Homo sapiens: one gene and its partners. The protein of the gene in region 6 purifies or fractionates together with the protein of the main gene of each other region. This does not show direct contact. Each region holds a gene or a part of one and is shown on either strand. Other genes may lie near its edges. The genes, in order: VSIG1, SCN2B, TMEM184A, CREB3L2, RIPK2 and MAP3K4.

What was found.
Region 1: the proteins of MAP3K4 (region 6) and VSIG1 purify together in Homo sapiens (co-immunoprecipitation; one large-scale study listed by IntAct). This does not show direct contact.
Region 2: the proteins of MAP3K4 (region 6) and SCN2B purify together in Homo sapiens (co-immunoprecipitation; one large-scale study listed by IntAct). This does not show direct contact.
Region 3: the proteins of MAP3K4 (region 6) and TMEM184A purify together in Homo sapiens (co-immunoprecipitation; one large-scale study listed by IntAct). This does not show direct contact.
Region 4: the proteins of MAP3K4 (region 6) and CREB3L2 purify together in Homo sapiens (co-immunoprecipitation; one large-scale study listed by IntAct). This does not show direct contact.
Region 5: the proteins of MAP3K4 (region 6) and RIPK2 purify together in Homo sapiens (affinity purification with western blotting, with the first as the bait; one study listed by BioGRID). This does not show direct contact.

The regions. Positions count from the first base shown.
Region 1 is NC_000023.11:108,061,817-108,065,689, reverse strand, and holds part of VSIG1 (V-set and immunoglobulin domain-containing protein 1 isoform 2 precursor), read right to left. Parts: intron 981-3,873; coding exon of another isoform or gene 903-980; intron 1-902.
Region 2 is NC_000011.10:118,162,150-118,164,689, forward strand, and holds the end of SCN2B (sodium channel regulatory subunit beta-2 precursor), read right to left. Parts: 3' UTR 657-2,540; downstream 1-656. UniProt on the Homo sapiens protein: Regulatory subunit of multiple voltage-gated sodium (Nav) channels directly mediating the depolarization of excitable membranes.
Region 3 is NC_000007.14:1,541,577-1,544,185, reverse strand, and holds the end of TMEM184A (transmembrane protein 184A), read left to right. Parts: 3' UTR 1-1,951; downstream 1,952-2,609. UniProt on the Homo sapiens protein: Acts as a heparin receptor in vascular cells. May be involved in vesicle transport in exocrine cells and Sertoli cells.
Region 4 is NC_000007.14:137,874,292-137,877,468, reverse strand, and holds the end of CREB3L2 (cyclic AMP-responsive element-binding protein 3-like protein 2), read left to right. Parts: 3' UTR 1-2,490; downstream 2,491-3,177. UniProt on the Homo sapiens protein: Transcription factor involved in unfolded protein response (UPR).
Region 5 is NC_000008.11:89,771,139-89,775,011, reverse strand, and holds part of RIPK2 (receptor-interacting serine/threonine-protein kinase 2), read right to left. Parts: intron 3,272-3,873; coding exon 3,222-3,271; intron 2,346-3,221; coding exon 2,184-2,345; intron 1-2,183.
Region 6 is NC_000006.12:161,088,928-161,092,800, forward strand, and holds part of MAP3K4 (mitogen-activated protein kinase kinase kinase 4), read left to right. Parts: intron 1-394; coding exon 395-544; intron 545-2,451; coding exon 2,452-2,613; intron 2,614-3,082; coding exon 3,083-3,216; intron 3,217-3,873. UniProt on the Homo sapiens protein: Component of a protein kinase signal transduction cascade. Activates the CSBP2, P38 and JNK MAPK pathways, but not the ERK pathway. Specifically phosphorylates and activates MAP2K4 and MAP2K6.

The DNA of each region.
Region 1 (3,873 bases), on a different chromosome or scaffold from region 6:
GATTTTAAGAAAACAAGTCAATACAGAAAATAACATTAAATAACAAATAGTGCTGGTGATACACAAATATGACAAAAATCATGTAGATGGTACATGAATGACTGAAGCTGGGAAATCACTGGATTAGGTAATTCCTGAGGTCCCTTCATAATACACACCTTCTATGTACATGTTTTGTTGGTTTCATGTAAATGTATATTATTCAAGTGATTGTTATTGTTCAATAAACTGTATTGTCTTAGTCTGGTGAGACTAATTTTTCATAAAATCTACTGGAAGGCCTTACAGTTCATTTAATTCACTTCCCTCAGTTTACAGAAGAAACCAAAGCCCAGAGAGGTTAAAAAATAAAAGGCAAAATTGACGGTTGAGACAGATCTGGAATCCAATTTTCCTAATTCCTTGTACTGTGGGCTTTACCTTAACAGGCCAATAAAAGAGGGAAAGCAATTAGAAAACCAAAAGATATTGTCTAGATGAATTCAAATGTATTCTCCTTTAAGCAGAAAGTCAATATATTTTAAAACTAAGGCAGAAAGCTGGATTTTGAGGGAAAAATCCCAGGAAAAGAGTACATTTACAGAGAAAACTATTTGTTTCTCTCCCGTTTTTTCTAACATCAACGTGTTTTCTTGCTTGCATTATAAATGCAGCCATTTATAATTCATTCATTCACACCTACTGAAATCACAAACTCTTGCCCCAGAATGGTCTTGTTTGACTTCCAAACCAGAAAGCCAGGATTAACTCCAGGTATTCAAGTGGGACAGAAGGAGGTTCAATACATCAGAGGATTACTTTCATTTGAGTTGGCACCCACGCTATCAGGCTTTCAATTTCACTAGGCAGCATGGGGCTTATTTACTTTCTAATTGACAGTTTGAGGTCTTGTTGTTTCTTACCTGGAGTTCAGCCTGCTGTCCATCAAGAGTGCCCTTCACAGCCTCAACATCTGGCCACTTCCCCTCCTCCCAAGGAGACTGTGGACAGTGTAAAACATCAGCCCTGTTTTATACTGATGCTTGATGACATCACAATGAGATACAACATCAGTCACGCCTGAGGCCCACAGCAAGTCCCAGAGGATCCAGGTGAAAAGGACCTTATTTCTGCAGAGATCTTGAGGCCAAAATGGTGTGTTTTAGGCCAGAATTAGGATATGAGAAGAAGTAAAAGTGTCCACTGTATCCATGTGTCCATGCCCACTGTAAAAGTCCCATAGTTGGGCATGAGTCAAGGTGAAATGAGTATATAAGCAATGAGGCCCTGGAACCTTACCCATGAAAAAGACCTTTACTACCTCTTACATGCTAGCTCCTCATGCTGTAGTCTAATACATTTTGCCCTCTCACGATTGACACTAAAAGGTATTAGAGACAGAAATGGGGGTAGTGAGGGCTAACAATGGAGACCTAAAAGAGCCAAGGCTTTGGCTTCACAGTTCTCTGTAAGAAGTAAAGTACCTAGGGGTAGACAGCAGCAGCCAGACACATACATGGAGGGGCTTTCTGTTAAGGGGAAGTCCACACAGTCACACTGTCCTTGTAAAGAAAAAAAGAAAGAAGTGTTTTCCTGAAACTGCTTATCTAATCATATAGGAAGGGCTACAACTTGATTCCACTTTCCATAAAAGAATAACTCTTTTAAAAATCAAAGCTGAACAGTGGCCAAAGCCTGGCCCATGATCCTGTGTGGCTTGTACACTTTTCAAAGAAAGAATATTATCAATTTAGACGTCAAAGCAATGGAGATCCAGAAAAAGCCCCGGATGTACAATGGGCCACATCTTTGGGTGGAGGTGGGGAGGAGGTGATTTTTTTAAGGAAATCCATCCCAGTGTTCCCTTAAGGGGCGCTTGTTAATTTTTTACCCACCTGCACTTTGTGCTTGGGTTCATGGTAGACTGCCCTGCTTTCTCCCAAGGTCCTCTCTGCCTGCCCCCAGGGTGACGCTAGAGGCTGATGGGTGGAGTCATAATTGCACATTAATTATAAGACCTCTGTGAGATAGTTTGGTTTGTGGTTTCTAAGGTTAAGGGGCCTTCAGGAGCCCGATGGATATTGGAAATATGGGAAATGGCTGGGAGGGGCTGGTAAGTAGTGGTAAGCTCATAACAGATATGGGGACTGCAGGGAACGGAAAAGTCAACGCAAACAAGGCATTCGAACTGTTGAAACAAACAAACAAAATACTGGGCAGGCCGACTGAAATACATCCACTGGCCAAATCTGACCCAGAGGCCTGCGGTTAGTAAACTCGAATTCATCCTTTTCTAATACAAAAAAAGGACACCGAGGCCTCAATAGAGGGAGCCATTTTCCCAAGGTCACACAATTTACAGTCAGACCTGGAATTCAGACCTTCTGATTCCCACTGAATATATTAAGATGGCACTCACAGTGCTTCTTAAGATGAGAAAGATGATTCCTGGGCAACCTTCTCCTTTTGGGACCATTCCATTCCCTGCTCCAGCCCAACCTTTCTCCTGCCAATTGTTGCTATTTATTGGCATGATGCTTCCCATGCTGAGTATGTTCACCACATGATGCCCTCAATATTTGCCAGCTGCAATTGTAGGCCCCTCAGTTCTTTGCAGAGCAACCTTTCCCTTCCTACTGTGCCAAGTTCCTATTCACACAAGGCCGTGCAGCTGGGAACCAGATTTGTCCTAAAAGACTTTTTCCTCAGCTTAGTGACACTGCTCTCTAACTAGAAGCATGGAGTATAAACAAGAAGGGTTGAAAGAATTCAGTCTGCTTTCTGTTTGAATCTGAGTTGGAGTTAGCTTCCAGAGCTGCTTTTGCAGATTCCTTCTGGGAAGGTGGAGGACATGGACATCCACAGCAAACCACCCATTCTTTCCTTTCCAGCTTCTTGCTTTCTTGTACTGCTGATAGAGGGGCTAGCCATAGGATAGGGAAGGGGTGTGCAGGTATAAGGTGGCAATGGTCACAAGCTCAGAATTTTATTTGGACTGTATTGTGGTGCAGGGATGGCATGTGGAAGGAATGGGATACCAAAAGAAAGACTCTCTTGCTTCCAAACCAACTCTCTTACCAACCCTCCATTTGCCTGGGTATCTGCCATTTGAGTTGCTCCTTTTGGAAGAAGGCATGGAAGGTCCCATTCAATGCATTCTTTAGAAGAGAATAAAATAAGCTTTCGCTAGTCCCTAACACCTTACCATGAGATTAATTTATCAGATTTAGCAGAAAGTGAATGGGACACAATACATAAATTTGATGGTGGGGTGGGGAAGAACTTGCAGTATTTCTCAGTAGGGGTGACACTGGCATTTTGGGCAGACAACTCTTTATTGTGTGGCTCTGTCCTGTGTATTTCAGGTTGTAAAACCTGAGAAGCCAGAGAACATAAGAACACTAGGTCCTGGGAAAGAAGTTGTCTAAGTTGTTTATGAGACTGGCAAAGGGTATTTTTTCACTATGAACATTCTTGAAGAATAAGTATTGTCTGAGAGATTCATGCTAAGCAGAGTCAAGGCATGGTCTGTTCAGGGACAGGTGGGGTCTCTGTAGTGTTAGCATTAACAGACTGGATGGAAGATGAAGCCATCTGTGTGACCAGAAAGGCACCAGACCACCCCAAATTTCCATGTTAGCCTGCCCATACCTGGCCTAGAGTTTTCAGCTGAGATTCCCTGCTGAGGGATTGACTATCTAAAGCTGTTCATATTTTCTGAGAGGAATGTTTCTCTGAGAGAAGGACCATGCTAATGAATATCCTGGCCTTCTTGGTGGGAAGACCTGTGGGATACTTCAGTCTCTGTTCTCCAAAGGGGATAGTCAGTAAGAGATAACATCAGCCCCTAGGTATTGAGGAATACCAGGCCTCAGAGTCAATTGCTAATCTAAC
Region 2 (2,540 bases), on a different chromosome or scaffold from region 6:
GGAAGAATGAAGAGCAAGGGAGAAAAAAAGGCCTGTCTGGGACAGTGGAGCCCCTAGCCAGGAGGTTGCCCTTGGTCCTAAACTTCTTAGGGCTGCTTTGGCACATATATATAGGATCCAGCAGTATGTAGATGGGACATGAGCCACCTGAACCTTCCCACAGCCACCCTTCTCCATGAACTGCATGAGGGCAGACTCTGACCAGCTGTCATCTATTCTTTCTGAGTCCAGAGGAGGCAAAAGAAATGTCTAATCCAACACCTTTGGGGAACAGAGCAGGAAGGATGGCCTGTCTGCCCATGCAAAGGACAGGCAACATCCGCATGACAGTCAGCCTTGGGAGCTTCCGGGGTTGTCTTCATCCCCAAAATAATCGAGAGCCCTCCAAGAAGTAGGTGTTCAGCCACTCTGTTCCAGGGTGAGCGGAGTCCCCAGGGGGTTGGGGAAGGCAAAGGGATGAAACATCTGTGGGGGCACAAGTGTGGGGTAGACAACCTTCCCCTTGTGAGGCAGGGGCATTGAGGCCCTCAGATGCTGGAGATCTGGCAGCGCCAATGGGATTACCAGGAAAGGAGCACCTAGGGTTCCAGTTAAGATCCTGGTGAAGCATCAGCCTACCCTGCCCTGAACCCCTGAATAAAGCCACACTCGAGGGATTTTCAGGGGAGATAGTTTATTGTTGCCAGTAGACCCAAACAATAAGACAAATTGCAAAAGAAACTCAGTCTGCTCCCAAAAGCAGATACATCCCAGCAGTCGAGTCACAGAGGGCCATCTCAGTTTCTCTCCCCTTCCAACCACCCCTTCCAACCTCTCTATAGCACACACAACCAAGAAAGTGCATATGTAGTTGGGTTTTCCCCTCCAAGTGCACAAAGCGCAAGAACATTCCAAAATTTGCCTTTGGTGAATCAACTCAAAACACTGAGAAGTTATTACACCTCCCCACACACACACAGTGTAACTTTTGGGGTGGGTGTGGTGAGATGTTTGATATTTGTATATATAATATATCTATACCTAGAGAGAGAGACTATGTACAGTGCATCAGCAAGCTTCAATAAAGGAAGACGCCAGCAAGAGGCACAGCAAGAGACACAGGCTGTCCATCTTTAAGACATAAGTAGGAAGGAAGATTTCTTGCTTCATCACCCGTTAACTGCACCAAGCCATTCCTATGGCCTGGAACTATCCTTTTGGACCTGCCCAGTATTTTCAATTGTCTGTCTGCTTAACCTGACCTTGCAAATATTTACCAGCCCAACCTCCCCAAGGAGACTCGCAGAGAGAAACATGGATCCGATCAGCTTTTCCTTTTTATAAACTGGAAATAACTGTGAAGAGTCCATAGCTAGGGGGCAGATAGCTATTTCCAAAGCCAGTTCCAAGGCACCTCAAAGCAGTTCAGTCCTGAATAATTGTGCTTTGTTCTTATAAGCTAAATCCCATGGGTTAGCCAGCCCGTCTCTCTTTGCAGTGGCCCTTAATTAGGAGGAAGAGACAGATGGGGGGTGGGGGCAGAGGGAGGTTCTGAGAGAGCAGGAGAGGCTGGGGCAGTTGAGAAAGTCAGCCGACTAAAACCAGCAGAGCGTGGTGGTGGGAACATGCAACCAGAAGTGGGGCTCGAACCCCACGGTAGGAAGAGGAAGAACTTGTCAGCATAAGTTAGGAAACAGGGTAGGGAAATGGCTGCTGTGGAAACATCTCTCTGGTTTTCCACCTCTACTTACAGAAGCCCCATTTTGCTCCCAACTTCACCATCCTGGGGGAGGCAGCTCTATGAGTCCTCTGGAGGAGATTCTAAGAGGCTCCAGAAGAAAATGCATATGAGGGCTGAGCACCTGGGACAGAGATGGTTCCTGACCCAGCCCCATCTGCTGGGGCCCTGAGGCCCGTGAAGAGACATTGCTTTTCCTGGGCCCCAGTTGATCAGGGCAGAGGAAAAAAAGACTCCAGGAATCTTGGGCTTCTTGATGGAGAGTTAGAACTTCTTAGAATACACTAGGAAAGCCCGCAAATAATTCCCCTAAATGTTATGGATCCTGGAAAAAGATAAGTTCCCAACATCAGCACAGCTCCTCACTCATCCTGGGAGAGAAGGACACTTAAAGGGTGACCAAAAAAATGAAATCTGCAAGCTGCAGAAATGTATACAACCACTCTTGGTCTCAGCTGGCATGAGGTGCCCGCCACCCACCTCTCTGCCCCCAGCTGGCTGGCTCAAGGATGGGCAGCGTCCATCTGCTGCAGGCATCCTGGCGGCTTAGCCCACCCGCATTGGCAGTGTGTTGATTGGCAGTTAGGTACTGAGCTGATGAGTTTAGCATTTCCAGATGGGCTTGACTCGCTCACCTCACCCAGGTGTTACCAGGCTGGTTGCCCATCCCCCACTCTGCACCCACTCTGCCTGGCCTCTGCACCCTTGACCCTGTTGTATTGCCCCTCTTCCCTGCTGTTTCTCCCTTCCCAGGGCACAGATTCTAGAATCTCTTCATCTTCCCCAACTGTAGCCTTGGAAGCAGTGTCTTGCAGAGGTGGAA
Region 3 (2,609 bases), on a different chromosome or scaffold from region 6:
CTCCCCCAGGAGGAGCAGGCTGGGCCCAGAGCCGCAGGGTGGGCTGCAGGGAGGTCTGACTTAGCTGGGGAAAGTGCCATCCCTGCCATTGCTAGTGACAAGCTCGGGCTGCTGTGGCCCCAGCACAGATTCAACACTCACTGCGCTATGTGCCAGCTGTTGCACACTCACCTCCACACCCAACTCACAGGAAGCAAGGCTGGGAAGGAGGGAACTGGCCCCAGGCCACACAGATGCTGCGAGTTGGGATTATGATCGGGTGCAGTGGCTCACACCTGTAATTCCAGCACTTGGGGAGGCCAAGGCGAGTGGATTGCTTGAGCCCAGGAGTCTGAGACCAGCCTGGGCAACATGGTGAAACCCCATCTCTACAAAAAAAAAATACAAAAATTAGCTGGGCGTGGTGGTGCGTGCCGGCGGTCCCAGCTACTCAGGAGGCTGAGATGGGAGGATTGCTTGAGCCTGGGAGGTCGAGGCTGCAGTGAACTGTGATCACGCCCCTGCACTCCAGCTTGGGTGACAAAGCAAGATACTGTCTCAAAAAACTCGAGTTGGGATTTCACCCTGCGTGGTCCAGCACTGAACAGCGTTCACACCTCGGTCAGCTCAGCCCCAAAAACGGGGAAGGCCGGGCGGGGTGGGGACGGCATGCGGGCAGGCCCGTGGCTTTTCGGAGGAGTCCACGGGCTTCCGGCCACTGTGCAGGGGCGCTTTGCTCTCTGCTCCCAGACAGACCCTGTCTTGCTCACAGCTTCCTGCAGGCTCCTCTGAGAGTCCAGCAAAGCTGGGCGAGATGTCTCCCAGGGAAGGGGAACACTGACAGCCGTGCTGCTCTCTGCTCCTTCCACTGGAAGGGAGAGGCTGCATGGACAGGGGGCTCCGGGTGGGGCAGATGGGGACACTCAGGACTGCGGCCTGACCCTCAGAGACTGAGCCCAGGACGTGGTCACCTGACCAGCACCTCCCCCGTGGCTGTCCCAGCCTCACGGTCACGGCCCAGCAGTCCGGGAAAGCCACTTACACGTAGTGCCCGGATCCTGACCCCGGTGAGGGACAGGCAGGGTCCCCTGGGATTGGGGGGGGGGTGTGGTTCTTGGCCCAAGAAAGCCCCAGCTGAAAGCACCAGCTACGCAACGAAAGGGTCTGAAACCAGAAAATTCTTTATTGCAAAGGTACAAAAGCAGTCACAGCAGCAGGACGCACGGCAATAAATTAGGTGGTGGCCGCAGGGACGGGGCAGGGCGGCGGCGGCCAGACACGGGCCCACATGTGATCTGTTTTCAATAATTTATATCATGATAAAAAGCAGCACAAAAAATAAATAATGAAATGGAACTGCCAAGTAGCACAGAAGCCAGGGTGAGGCGGTGTGGCGGCGTGGCGGCATAGGGGGCCGGGGTCCCCACGCCCTGGAAACGCAAAGACCTGGATCTCTTTGGGAAGCCGGAGGCACGGAGACAGAAAACAAACCCACGTGACAAAGAGTCCCTCGTCTTTTTCTTAAATAAAAAAATCCATATATTAAATCATGACAATGAAATTTCAACAATCTGAAAAGAAAAGCAGAACACACCGTGCTTCCCCGGCCCAGCTCTGGGCGGTGACAGCGGCTCCGTCCACCCTGGGGACCAGGGAGTCCCTTCTCCAGCAAAGCACTGCAGGCCAAGGGCAGGTAGAAGCCCACGGCCCACAAGACGTGGACACCAAGAACCCCAAGACGGGACAGAACCGGCCACCCGCTGCGGCCTGTCCTGCGGGGCCCAGCTGCCTGGTACAGTCCGTGGGGAGATGAAGGGGGACGGCGGGCAGCCCGGGCCTCCGCTTTGCTCCCAACTCCCACCTGTGCCCGTGCCCCCGGCTCTGCTCTGATAGATTTACAGTATCAAACTGGAAAAGAAAGATTGTTACGAAAAATCTGTAGATAAACTGTGAATATAATTTTATATCTCTATATATTTTCTGTTTCTCTCTTTAAATATCCCCCTGGTCCTTATGACATCCAATATGGATTACCTACCACGGCCACGGGGGCAACGGCTGTTTGGGAACACGCAGGCCTTTGCTCTGTAGGGACCCAGTGGTCCTGGCGGGCCTGCAGCTTCCCACTCAACTTCTAACAGTAGACACAGAACCAAGTCGCAGCCCCGGGGCTGTCTGTCCTCTGCCCTCCCAGCGTGGCTGGCACCCGCCTGGGCTCTGTAGCTGGTGGGGGCTGTTACTGGGTGGGCAGGGGCAGCCGAGAAGGAGCCAGGGCCCCAGGCACCACCTTGCAGGTCTTATGTGGCGGCCCCCGGCCGGCGGCTCACATTCCGCCAGCTCCCCCAGGCAGGGGCTCCGCAACCCCCGCGGCTCTCGCTGCAGAGACCCCAGTCACAGGAGGGACCCTCAAGGCGGCTCTCCAGGAAAAGGAAGCCCAAGGTGGAGTGCCAAGCCCACTGGTGCCTCAGTGCTCTTGGAAGGAGGAGCAGGCAAAGGCTCCGGGTGAGGACTGAGTGCTGAGGCCAGCCACACCTGCAGCCCGTGGCTGTGCTCCTGGGGGTGTGCGCGCAGGAGCCACGTCCACGAAGCTCTCCTGGACTGGTGCCTGCTGCCTCCCCACCCGCCGCGCC
Region 4 (3,177 bases), on a different chromosome or scaffold from region 6:
AATGAAAGGCTGCAGTGCCAGTTTTAAGAAAGAATTTCTGTGAAGTGTGAGGACTCTGGAGTCTAGCTCACATAAAGAGAGTGTTATATAAAAATCCGACAGCTGAACTAGGTTGCTCTTTTTTGGCAGGGAGTGGGGATGAGATTTGACACCAATATGGGCAAAATTAGATAACCTTTTGGTTAATATAAATGATTTTGATTTGGAGGCCTAATTTGTAGATTGTGAAAGCAGCTTTTAGTTTAACTTATTCACAGACCCCTTATAATTACCATGTTTTTTTTTTTCTTCCTAAATCTCTTGGTTCAGCTTGTGAATCTTACGTGCCCGTAAAGTTGGGATGTTGAATTGGCTCTTCTTTGTTCTGGCAGTGAGTCAAGTGTCCAGCATTTTTTCATAAGTGTTTTTTAAAATTGTTCTCCAGCATTTTATGGCTCCTCCCTCCCATGTCCTCAGACCCAGCAAAAGCGTAGAGGCAGAATTAGAGGCCTCTCCAGGCCAGCTCCTCTGCCCACATGTCATACAAGGTGTGAATTTGAGCACAGTCCAGAAATGGAGACATCCCACCCCCAGTTGAATAATGGCCCATTCATGCCAACCTTGCCAACACGGAGAGGGCAGAGATGCACTAGAAGACCTTCATCCTCCCCTTCCTCTGCCCCAAGTCACTACAGTTGGTTCTATTGAAGCCAGTCTTTAAGAAACCTGGGTTAAAGACACCAGCACTTCTGCTTGCTGGGCTGGCTGGACCTGTGAAGCCATGGGCAGGTAGTGCCCTCTTGAGAGTCATTTTATTTGGCCACCTTCAGGTGAGACTATCCATAGACACATGCTAGGATAGGCCCCGCTGGGAGGGCAGTTACAGGAGAGAGTAGGTGGTGGTGACGTGAGGGCTGTGAAGGATCCAGAGACAAGACTTAGATGTTTCGTTCATTCACTCACTCATTCAGTTACTCCTAAGACTTTTCAGTTTCATAAGGAAGAGTGTTGCCTGAGGCCCTAGGGAATATTGGGGAATAGAAGGGATTGAGGAAACATTAATAATAGTTATTCAAAAGACCCAAATGCTTATACTTCTCTCTCCCTTCTTCTCTCTCTGACACACACACACACACACACACACACACACACACACACGTGCACATTCCTCCCTTACATGCTCATTTGTGCCTTAAATGTGCCTTATAGGTAAATCCAGGATGACTGAGGAATCCCTCGTCACTGGGAGATTTTGTATATATTCTTTTATTATTAGATTGAGTTGGGTGTGGGGAAAAATTTTTTTCTGAAGGCTCAAAAGTGGTTTCCTAAAAGTGAGCCACTATCAGATTTGCACATCAGGAGAAAAGAAATAGGGTTACGTCCATTAGGAAAATCCCAGTTTGCAGGAGTGCAATCACATCAAAAAAACAACCAGCCAGGATTAAAGGTATTATAAATCCTCATAGCGGAACATTTCTCAGGGCAAAGGAACCTGGCTCATTTGAAGATTAATGTTCCATGCCTTTGTGGTCAAAGGGTCAGCACTTAACACAGGAAAAAACTAGGTGTTGTTTTGTTTTGTTATTTTGGACAACATAAAATTCAGGAATGTTTTATTTAGCCTTGGTTTCTAGAAGGAAGGGAAATAATATTTCTTGAGCATTTACTAGGGTGTTGCGTGCTGTGCTAAGTAAATTTTAAGTCTTTCAGTTTTATAGATACGGAAAACAAGGGTGACTCTTTACCACAGGATGAATAAAGAACTAAGTAATATGGGAAATGCAGCAATTTCTGGACTAGCTGAGCCGATTCCTTCCTGTGAGCACACTGTAAGCTTTCAAGTTCTCTGGGCAGGAATTACAGCACCTGTCCCCTGCAATGGCCCTGCTGTGTGATGCTCATCGCTTCCCTTCGTGCTGGAGCAGTCCCCCAGGTGTCCATCTCCTATCTTTTTGTTCCAATCTTCTGTGAGTTCCAGCTAGCAGGCTTTACATCTGGGGAAAGGAAAACCAGGGGTTTTAGCTCTGTTCTCTGCTCCCATCCTTCGCTCACCAGCTGAGTGAGAACATGAACTTTTTGCACCATGTACCCATGGCTTACACTACTTAGAAAATCACCTTTTCAGATAAAACAGTTTATGAGTTCATAGAGAACACCAGCACTCTTTGACAAAACTGTGAGTGACCCTTTTTAAACAATGCTGAGCAGGCCCTGAGCTATAATCAACGGTGAGCTTTAATGTCTATGCTGACAGTTAGGTTTTGCTCTCTTTTGTAACAGGTTACGTAGACCAGCAGTGTTTAAATCTAAATACGTTGTGAGTCTGTTATCTGTCCTATCGCGTTTTTTAAATGACTTTTTATTCTTTATCATAGCTAAGTAAATACCAAAAAAAAAAAAAAGCTTTGTAGGACACTTGTACTTAGTTTGGGAAAAAAAAATAAATTGAAATTGTTATGCTTTTGTATTTCCATTTCTTGCAAATAAATATTTTTTCTTAAATAGTAAGATGTTGCCCAGTCTTTATAATCTTGGTACTAATTTGAAAAGCATGTTGTTTTTTTATGAACATGGGTTTGTGTATGTGTGCCGAACCGTTCTTTCCTGGATATCTACTTGGCCTGAAAGAAGAGCCTCAAACCAGCAATTGGTATGTTATATAGGACTGAATCCAAGCCTTAGTTGGAGGAATATTGAGAATGTAATTGTTTTTTCAGGCAGCCACGGGAAGAAAAACAGTATCCTCTAGAGACTTATGCAGCATGACTGTTATTTTTATTGTCTCCTCTAACTATTCCCTAACTAGATTTCAACTGTCTGTGGATTTGATTTTGCTTTCCCCATCTCTGGTTGCTTGAGAAAGATCCTTTGGACTTGAGCCAGAAAGGAATGATCCTTCTTCCTACGAACAGTTGCAGAGGATGTCTAACAGATTCATGCTCCAGAAATTCTGATGAAATGGTTGATAAAGGTCAGTGCACTCAAGCAGAGTAATCTTCGTTCCATTACAATGTCTGAATCCAAATGTAGCTTTCTTCACTCAGAGAGTGGGGGCTTCGTTTAGTCTCAGACTGACTTGGGATGTGAGAGACTAAGGCCAGGGACTGTGCTTACTTGGAAAAAAAAAACAAAACATGGGATTTTTTTGTTTGTTTGTTTTGTGTTTTTTTTTCCTTAGCAGCATGCTCAACCCTG
Region 5 (3,873 bases), on a different chromosome or scaffold from region 6:
TTTACATCTCTCTATTAAAACTCCATTTGTTTGGATTACCGGTGATGACAATGTTGGAAAATCCTGCTTATCTCATTTGGCCTCCTGGCAGATTAAACATGTCCGACTATACCCCTCCTTGACTTCCAAGACACAAGGACTACACTCTCTACTGTCTTCTCTTCCTTAATCCTTTTTCTTCTTCCTCTTCTCAATTTCTAAGTGCTGGAATGCCTCAGAGCTTTACTATGGGTCCTCTCTTTGCTATGTATATTCCCTTCTTAGATGAACCAGTCCAGACTATCAATATGTTAGTGATGTTCAATTTTATATTAGGATCCTGGACTCTTCCTGGAACAACAGATTCATGTATTGTTGTAGTAGTAGCAGCAGTAATTATGACCGTTTCTACTTGCTGGCTATTATAAACAATGCTGCTATCACTAATCACATACAACTGTGTGAACATATGTTTTCATTTCTCTTGGTTTACCTGTTAGTGGATTGCTTGGTTGTATGGTAAATTTATCTTTCATTTTTAAGAAACTGCCAAACCGTTTTCCAAAGTGGCAGCATCATTTTATATTCCCACCAACAATGTATACGGATTTTGGTTCTGCCACATCACTGTCAACACTTGTTATTTTCTGTCTTTAATTATAGCTATTTTGTGGGTATGAAGTGGTAACTCATTGCAGTTTTAATTTGCATTTCCAAATGACTAATAATATTAAGCATCATTTTATGTGCTTTTTAGCTATTTGTATATCTCCCTTGGTGAAATTCAAATCTTTTACTCATTTAAAAATAGGGCTATATGTCCTATTATTGACTTGTCAGGGTTTTTTATATATTCTAGAATCAAGCCCTTTAGCAGATACATGTTATGCAAATATTTTCTCCCAGTCTGTGGCTCTGCTTTTTTTTTTCCTTCTTGGAAATGAGGTCTTGCTATGTTGCCCAGGTTGGAGTGCAGTAGCTATTCATAGGCACGATCACAGTGCACTATTACACATCCTCAAACTCCTGGGCTCAAGTGATCCTCCTGCCTCAGCCTCCTAAGTACCTGGGACTAAAGTCGTGGACACTAAATGCCTGGCTTTCTCTTTTCTCAATAGTACCTTTCGAAGTGGAAAAGTTTCCAATGTTTGCAAAGTCTGATTATAAATTTTTTAATGAATCCTATTTATTTTTGATGTCATATTTAAAGATTCTGCCTAACCCTAGGTCATGAAGATTTTCTCCTACATTTACATTTGGATGTCTGATCCATTCTACCTCTGAAATACTATCTTAATTCTGTAACTCTTCTGTCTTCAGAATTTCCACCTTAATTAGAATATTCCTGAAAGTGTCTTTTCTAGCCTCTTTGCTTCCACTTTTGTCTTTCTCCAATCAACTTTCCACACAGCAGTAAGAATTTCACCTAAACTTCTATCAGATCATGTCACTTCCCTGCAAAAGATACTTTAATGGCTTTCCATTGCACTTGGAATAAAAATCTAACCTTTTTATGATGGCCAATAGCCTCTCTCTTAACTCTCCAATATCATCTAATTCCTTTCCTTGCTCACTGTATTCCAGCCACACAGGCCTTCTCACTGTTTCTTGAGAATATAAAACTTTTTCCTCTTCTAGGCTCAGAGCCTTTATGCTTGCTGTTTTGTTTGGCTGAATACTCTTTCTTCAGCATTTGAATGACTGGCTCTTTTTCAAGCTTCAAATGTCAGCTCAAATGTTTGCCCCTAAAAAAAGGCCTTTGTTTCCCTCCCTTAATTAGTCTATTACCTTGCTTATTTCCTTATAAGACTGTCACAATTTGTGTATCTTGCTTATTTATTTGTTTTCACTCTGCCTTCTCAACTAGAATGTGAACTAGCTACAGAAAGTTTGTCTTGTTTACTACTCTGTTCCCAGGGCTCACTCCAGTATATACATAGCACATGGTAGGGGTTTAAGACATATTTGTTAAATATATGAAAGAAATTGTTACTCCTATCACACGATTTCTCTTTTTTGTTAGGAATTCTCAATTCTGCTCTAGAAGGAGTTACTCATATATAAATGCTATGATAAGACAGAAAATAATTTAAACAACTTCTAGCTAGTCATCTAATTTGCACAATTTTTCAAGGAATATTTTATTCACAGTATATTAACTAATTCTGTAATTCAAAGAGTCTAGGTTAAAACTATATACTCACTTAAGAAAGATGGTCTTTCATCTGGATTTTGTGCCCATCCACTTTCTATTAGAGAGATCATACGTGCTCGGTGAGGTATATCATATGGCAAACTTTCTTCATTAATAACAGGTCGATGTCCTTGTGACACACTATACATTATCTGCAAAGGATTGGTGACATCTGTCAAAACAAATAGATTGCATTCATTAGTAATATATTATGATTAAGCATATTACTTACATCTAAAACTAACTAAAAGAAAATAAGTGAATATTGAAATTTTAGGAATGATGCCTTACCCCCCTTTCTGTAAAAGGAATATATATACCCCAAACCATTGCCAGACTTGTCTGATTCCTATGGAATGAGTTTATATCCTCACCTCATTAATTTTGGGCTTGACCATGTGATTGGATTTGGTCAACAGAGTATTTGTAAAGCAGAGCTGAGCGAAACCTTGCAGAACTAAGAAGGGCTACAGCAACCAATATTTAATGTGAATGAGAAATAAATGTTTATTTCATAAGCTACGGAGATTCCGAGGTTGTTTTTTGTTACACAACAAGCTGACCTACACAAACCTCAAAATAAAGAAATAAACAATATTTTCAGGGAATAAAAAGGACAGATTAGTCTTCGATATTTGCTAGTCTTTATAGAGGGGGTAGTAATTAAATTATCATATAAATAATTTTACAGCTAGACTAGAACTTGGAAATAGTAATTTAAAATTCTTATTATGCAGGCGACAAAAATGAGGACGCAAGAGATTTGTGACTTGATCACAGAGCTAATTACTGTCAGAACAAGAATTAAAATCTGGGTTTTTCTGATCCTTAATCCAGTACATTTTCCAGTATATAGTAGACTCACAACTGGATCCTTAACCCGGTATATTTTGCAGTATGTGATGCATTCACAACTGATAAATGGTTGTTTTAGTGTGTTTTCCACAAAATGAATAAGCAGATTTAAAATAACATGATTTTTAGATAGTTCTGAGAGTGACCTACTAACATGATGTTATTGAGCATAAAAAAGTCAAACCATACTTACCTTCAAAAGGCTGTTTTCTGGATAACACTTCCCATGTGATAACTGCATAGCTGTTTAACATAAGAACATACATGTTACATATTTTAAATGAACTCTGCATAATAAACTAAAATAGCACTATTTTTAAAAGCTGACTGAAGATACCATTTTTCAAAGTGATAAGGCAGCAAAGAATTACTGTATACAATGAAGATGATAAATGCTCATGTAGTTTGGAAACAAAATCAACTTTAAGTTAAAAAATTAGGAAATTACTGTAATACAAGCTTAACGTTACATGCAAGATTAACTTTTTGTGGATGATTTAATTCTTGGACACCCAGATAAGCTATGCCCTTTAATTAAATGATATTATTTTTCACAAAGAACAAAGAACAAGAAAAAAATTGTCTCATGGAGCTCTATTCTACTGCCTTTTTTCTGCTCTCAGCACTATCTTCTTTGGTAGTAGAAATATCTTGCCTACAGTTTAACTTCAGATGTCAATTACAGGGTTAAGCTGCATAGAGTTTATAATTAGAATAAATGGTTAAATAGGATATAAGAATTTTGCCACACCCCAACATTAACCATGCATTCAAAATGGACACATAGAATTTATTACTACTAACACCTTGTGTTACAGGGAGAGCGAGGAGTACAGAGGGAATTC
Region 6 (3,873 bases):
TTATATAAGGCCCCTCATCTTATTTCTGTCTTATTCCTACATTTTCCTTCTTCATATGCTGCTCCAATACACACACACATGCACACATACACACACACACTCACACACACTCTGCACTGGCAGTACTGAACTACTTGAAGTTCTAGGATATCTCAAAGATGTCATGCCTGCAGTCCCAAAGGGTTCTTCTCCGTGGTGCTGAATATCCCAGCTGTCAATGCCCACTGAAGCGTGTTGCTGTGTAGGAGAAGCTTTGCTTAAAAATGACTTTCTGATTAGATGGTTGTTGGCCTGGTATCCCTGAGATTGGCATTGTTTTTGGACTGGTGTTGAACTAGAATAACAACTAGTAACTGGGTTGGTTTTTATGTCCTGTGCTTGATTTTCCTCCCAGGTGGATAATCTTTTACTAGTTGTCATGCAGTCTGCGCATCTCACAATTCAGAGAAAAGCTTTCCAGCAGTCCATTGAGGGACTTATGACTCTGTGCCAGGAGCAGACATCCAGTCAGCCGGTCATCGCCAAAGCTTTGCAGCAGCTGAAGGTATTACACTGTCCTCTACATTAGCTGAGATTTTTCCTTTTTGATGAAAGTCAGTGTGTGGTAATGTGTGTAAGGTAATATCATCCAAGGAACTTGAGCTCCTGAATTGCCTGCCCACTCACCTCTCTTCCCAATACATATTTTCTTATGTCTAAACTACATATTCTGAGATTCTTCCTGAAGCTGTAGAACTTTATAATTGGAAAGGATAGAGAATTGAACTTTATGTGACTTATTCATAATGGCTACATGACTGGTTAGTGGCAAAGTTGAAAATTTAATAATTTAGGTCTCTTCATTCCCAGTGTAAATTTCATTCTCCTTTCACAATCCCCAGTATTTACTAGAGGTACTCCATATCAGCAGTGTGTAATAGAAGATTTATTTATTGTTTTGTTTAATAAATAATTCAACCAAATTAAATATAATAGAAAAAAGTTGCAGAGAAGTACAAAGGCCTTTCAAAGTTTATGACAAGCCCCAGCCTGGCTGTCTTTTTCCATTATTTCCTGTTTTTGACACTTTCTATTTTGTATCCCATGTATCAGTCTTGATCTCATCCACACTTTTCCAGGCCATCAGTTATGTCTTCTCACTCACATTAAGGCTTAACTTCTTGAAGAAGAAACATTCTCTGAAGTTACAAGTCATTTCGTAAACACTTGTTTTTCTTCTGTTGGTCTGATTTGTCTGATTTATCTATAAACATTTATTAACTAAATATTTAGGTTATCTCTCTCTATGGATTGCTGGAAGAATATTTTGTAACCATAGTAAGGGGATTGCCTGATGGAGACCTTGTGTGCACTCGTGTGTAAGGGTGGGTAGAGAGAGAGACCGATTTGGAGCTATTGTGATGTTGCTGACAGAGGTGACAAAAGCTCGAGCCAGGGCAGGGCTTCTCAGCCTCTTGGATGTGGACGTTTGGGCCCGTAACTCTTGGTCGTGGAGGGCCGTCCTGCGCATTGTAGGATGTTTAGAGCTAGGGCAGGGCTTCTCAGCCTCTTGGATGTGGACGTTTGGGCCCGTAACTCTTGGTCGTGGAGGGCTGTCCTGCGCATTGTAGGATGTTTAGAGCCAGGGCAGGGCTTCTCAGCCTCTTGGATGTGGACGTTTGGGCCCGTAACTCTTGGTCATGGAGGGCCGTCCTGCGCATTGTAGGATGTTTAGAGCCAGGGCAGGGCTTCTCAGCCTCTTGGATGTGGACGTTTGGGCCCGTAATTCTTGGTCGTGGAGGGCCGCCCTGCGCATTGTAGGATGTTTAGAGCCAGGGCAGGGCTTCTCAGCCTCTTGGATGTGGACGTTTGGGCCCGTAACTCTTGGTCGTGGAGGGCCGTCCTGCGCATTGTAGGATGTTTAGCAGCATCCCTGGCCTCTACTCACCATATCCCAGTACTTCCACTTTTTCCTCCAAATTTTGACCATCAAAAACTTCTCTGGACAACGTCTCCAGACGCTGAGGGGAGGGGGAGAAATCTGCCCCAGAAGAGAACCCCTGGACTAGGGAGTAGCAGGGAAATGAGGACAGCACGATCGGAGGAGGTCATCTAGAAGTACATGGACTTTTTCACTCTGTGGAATTGCACCCGTACTTATGGTTGAGCAACCGTCCAGGAGGAGAAAACAACAGGTGGTTGATGTATAAAAATATTGAAGATAAAAGCATCTATTCCAAGAGCAGATTATAACTAGACTGTATCATTTTAAATGCATTTTTTTCTCTTCTATTTAAGAATGCCAAATAAAATGACATAATTTCTTCTATATTTGGTAATTCCTTTACCAAGTGGCTGAATTGTTTGTAGTGGTTAATGTCTGTGTGATGATGAACGAAATCTTCCTTTAAAATGTGGTAAGTATTGTATGATTTGCTTCATTTTGCATTAATCATGGTTTGGACTCTTCAGAATGATGCATTGGAGCTATGCAACAGGATAAGCAATGCCATTGACCGCGTGGACCACATGTTCACATCAGAATTTGATGCTGAGGTTGATGAATCTGAATCTGTCACCTTGCAACAGTACTACCGAGAAGCAATGATTCAGGGGTACAATTTTGGATTTGAGGTAGGTTCAAAATAAGAGGAAACACGGTACAATTTAGTAATTGCTTGATAACTTACAGAAAGTTTTTGGAACCTTTTACAGTAAATCTGATATTGTAATCATAGCTTAATCAAGAATATCATCTTATATCACTGCTGTATATCAGAGATGTTAGTTTACTTTTAAACTGTTAGGTAATTGTCCAACTTTTATTTTGTGCTAACAGCCATCTACTTACATTTTAAAACTTTAAAGAGATGTTTTATGTCATAAAAGCACATTCTTAATTTAAACTCAGGAGTAAAACATTTATGAAACTGCATTTTGAAACACTGTACTTTCCATAATTCTTCATACTATTCAAAATATAGAAATTTTAATTGGATTTCACTTTTTGTTTTTAGAAAACATTTTAGACATGGCATTATAGTGTGTGATATTATTTAATGATCATTTCCTTAATGTTGATATACATGAAATCTTCTTACAGTATCATAAAGAAGTTGTTCGTTTGATGTCTGGGGAGTTTAGACAGAAGATAGGAGACAAATATATAAGCTTTGCCCGGAAGTGGATGAATTATGTCCTGACTAAATGTGAGAGTGGTAGAGGTACAAGACCCAGGTAATGACCAAGTAGGATGTTTCTGAAATGTGTCATGTGGGCTTGGTGGTATTTGTTCATATATGTTCTGTGGGATTCTTTTTGAGCAGACGACACAGAAGGGAACACTCTAAACTCTTCGGTGATCAGGTTTTTTTTAATGGAAAAATATGTAGAGAAAACTGCGTAACTCTTGGGAAAAAATTTTTTTTTAAATTTGTTCCAAATTTGAGTTACCTTTAAGGGAACTCATGTTCTCCTTTGACAAGTCTTCCTGATGACTAATGTATTTTCCTCCCTCATGAAATTTATTCATTAAGAAACCATTTTGGAATTTGCAGGGGTGAAATGGGTGAATCGTCTGTGAGGCTCAATACTAGCTCCACTAAAGTAAACATAGTTATTAAAGTGTCATGACTGTGTGAGAAATAGCTGAGTGTTCTGTAATTTGTAATGGAGGGATAGCATGGGGCACTTTCTTAAAGTCATTAAGCAATTTCTCCAAGTTAGAGAAAACACATTTGCTGCATCTGAGATTCAAAGTAGGAACTTTGTGTTACAAAACTCATAAATACTTGTTGAATTACAAATAAATAATTGTTGAATTACAGATGGCACCTATCATGTCTAAAATCCTCTTCCATGCTTCCCATTGGTTTCAAAACAAAATTAAATTTT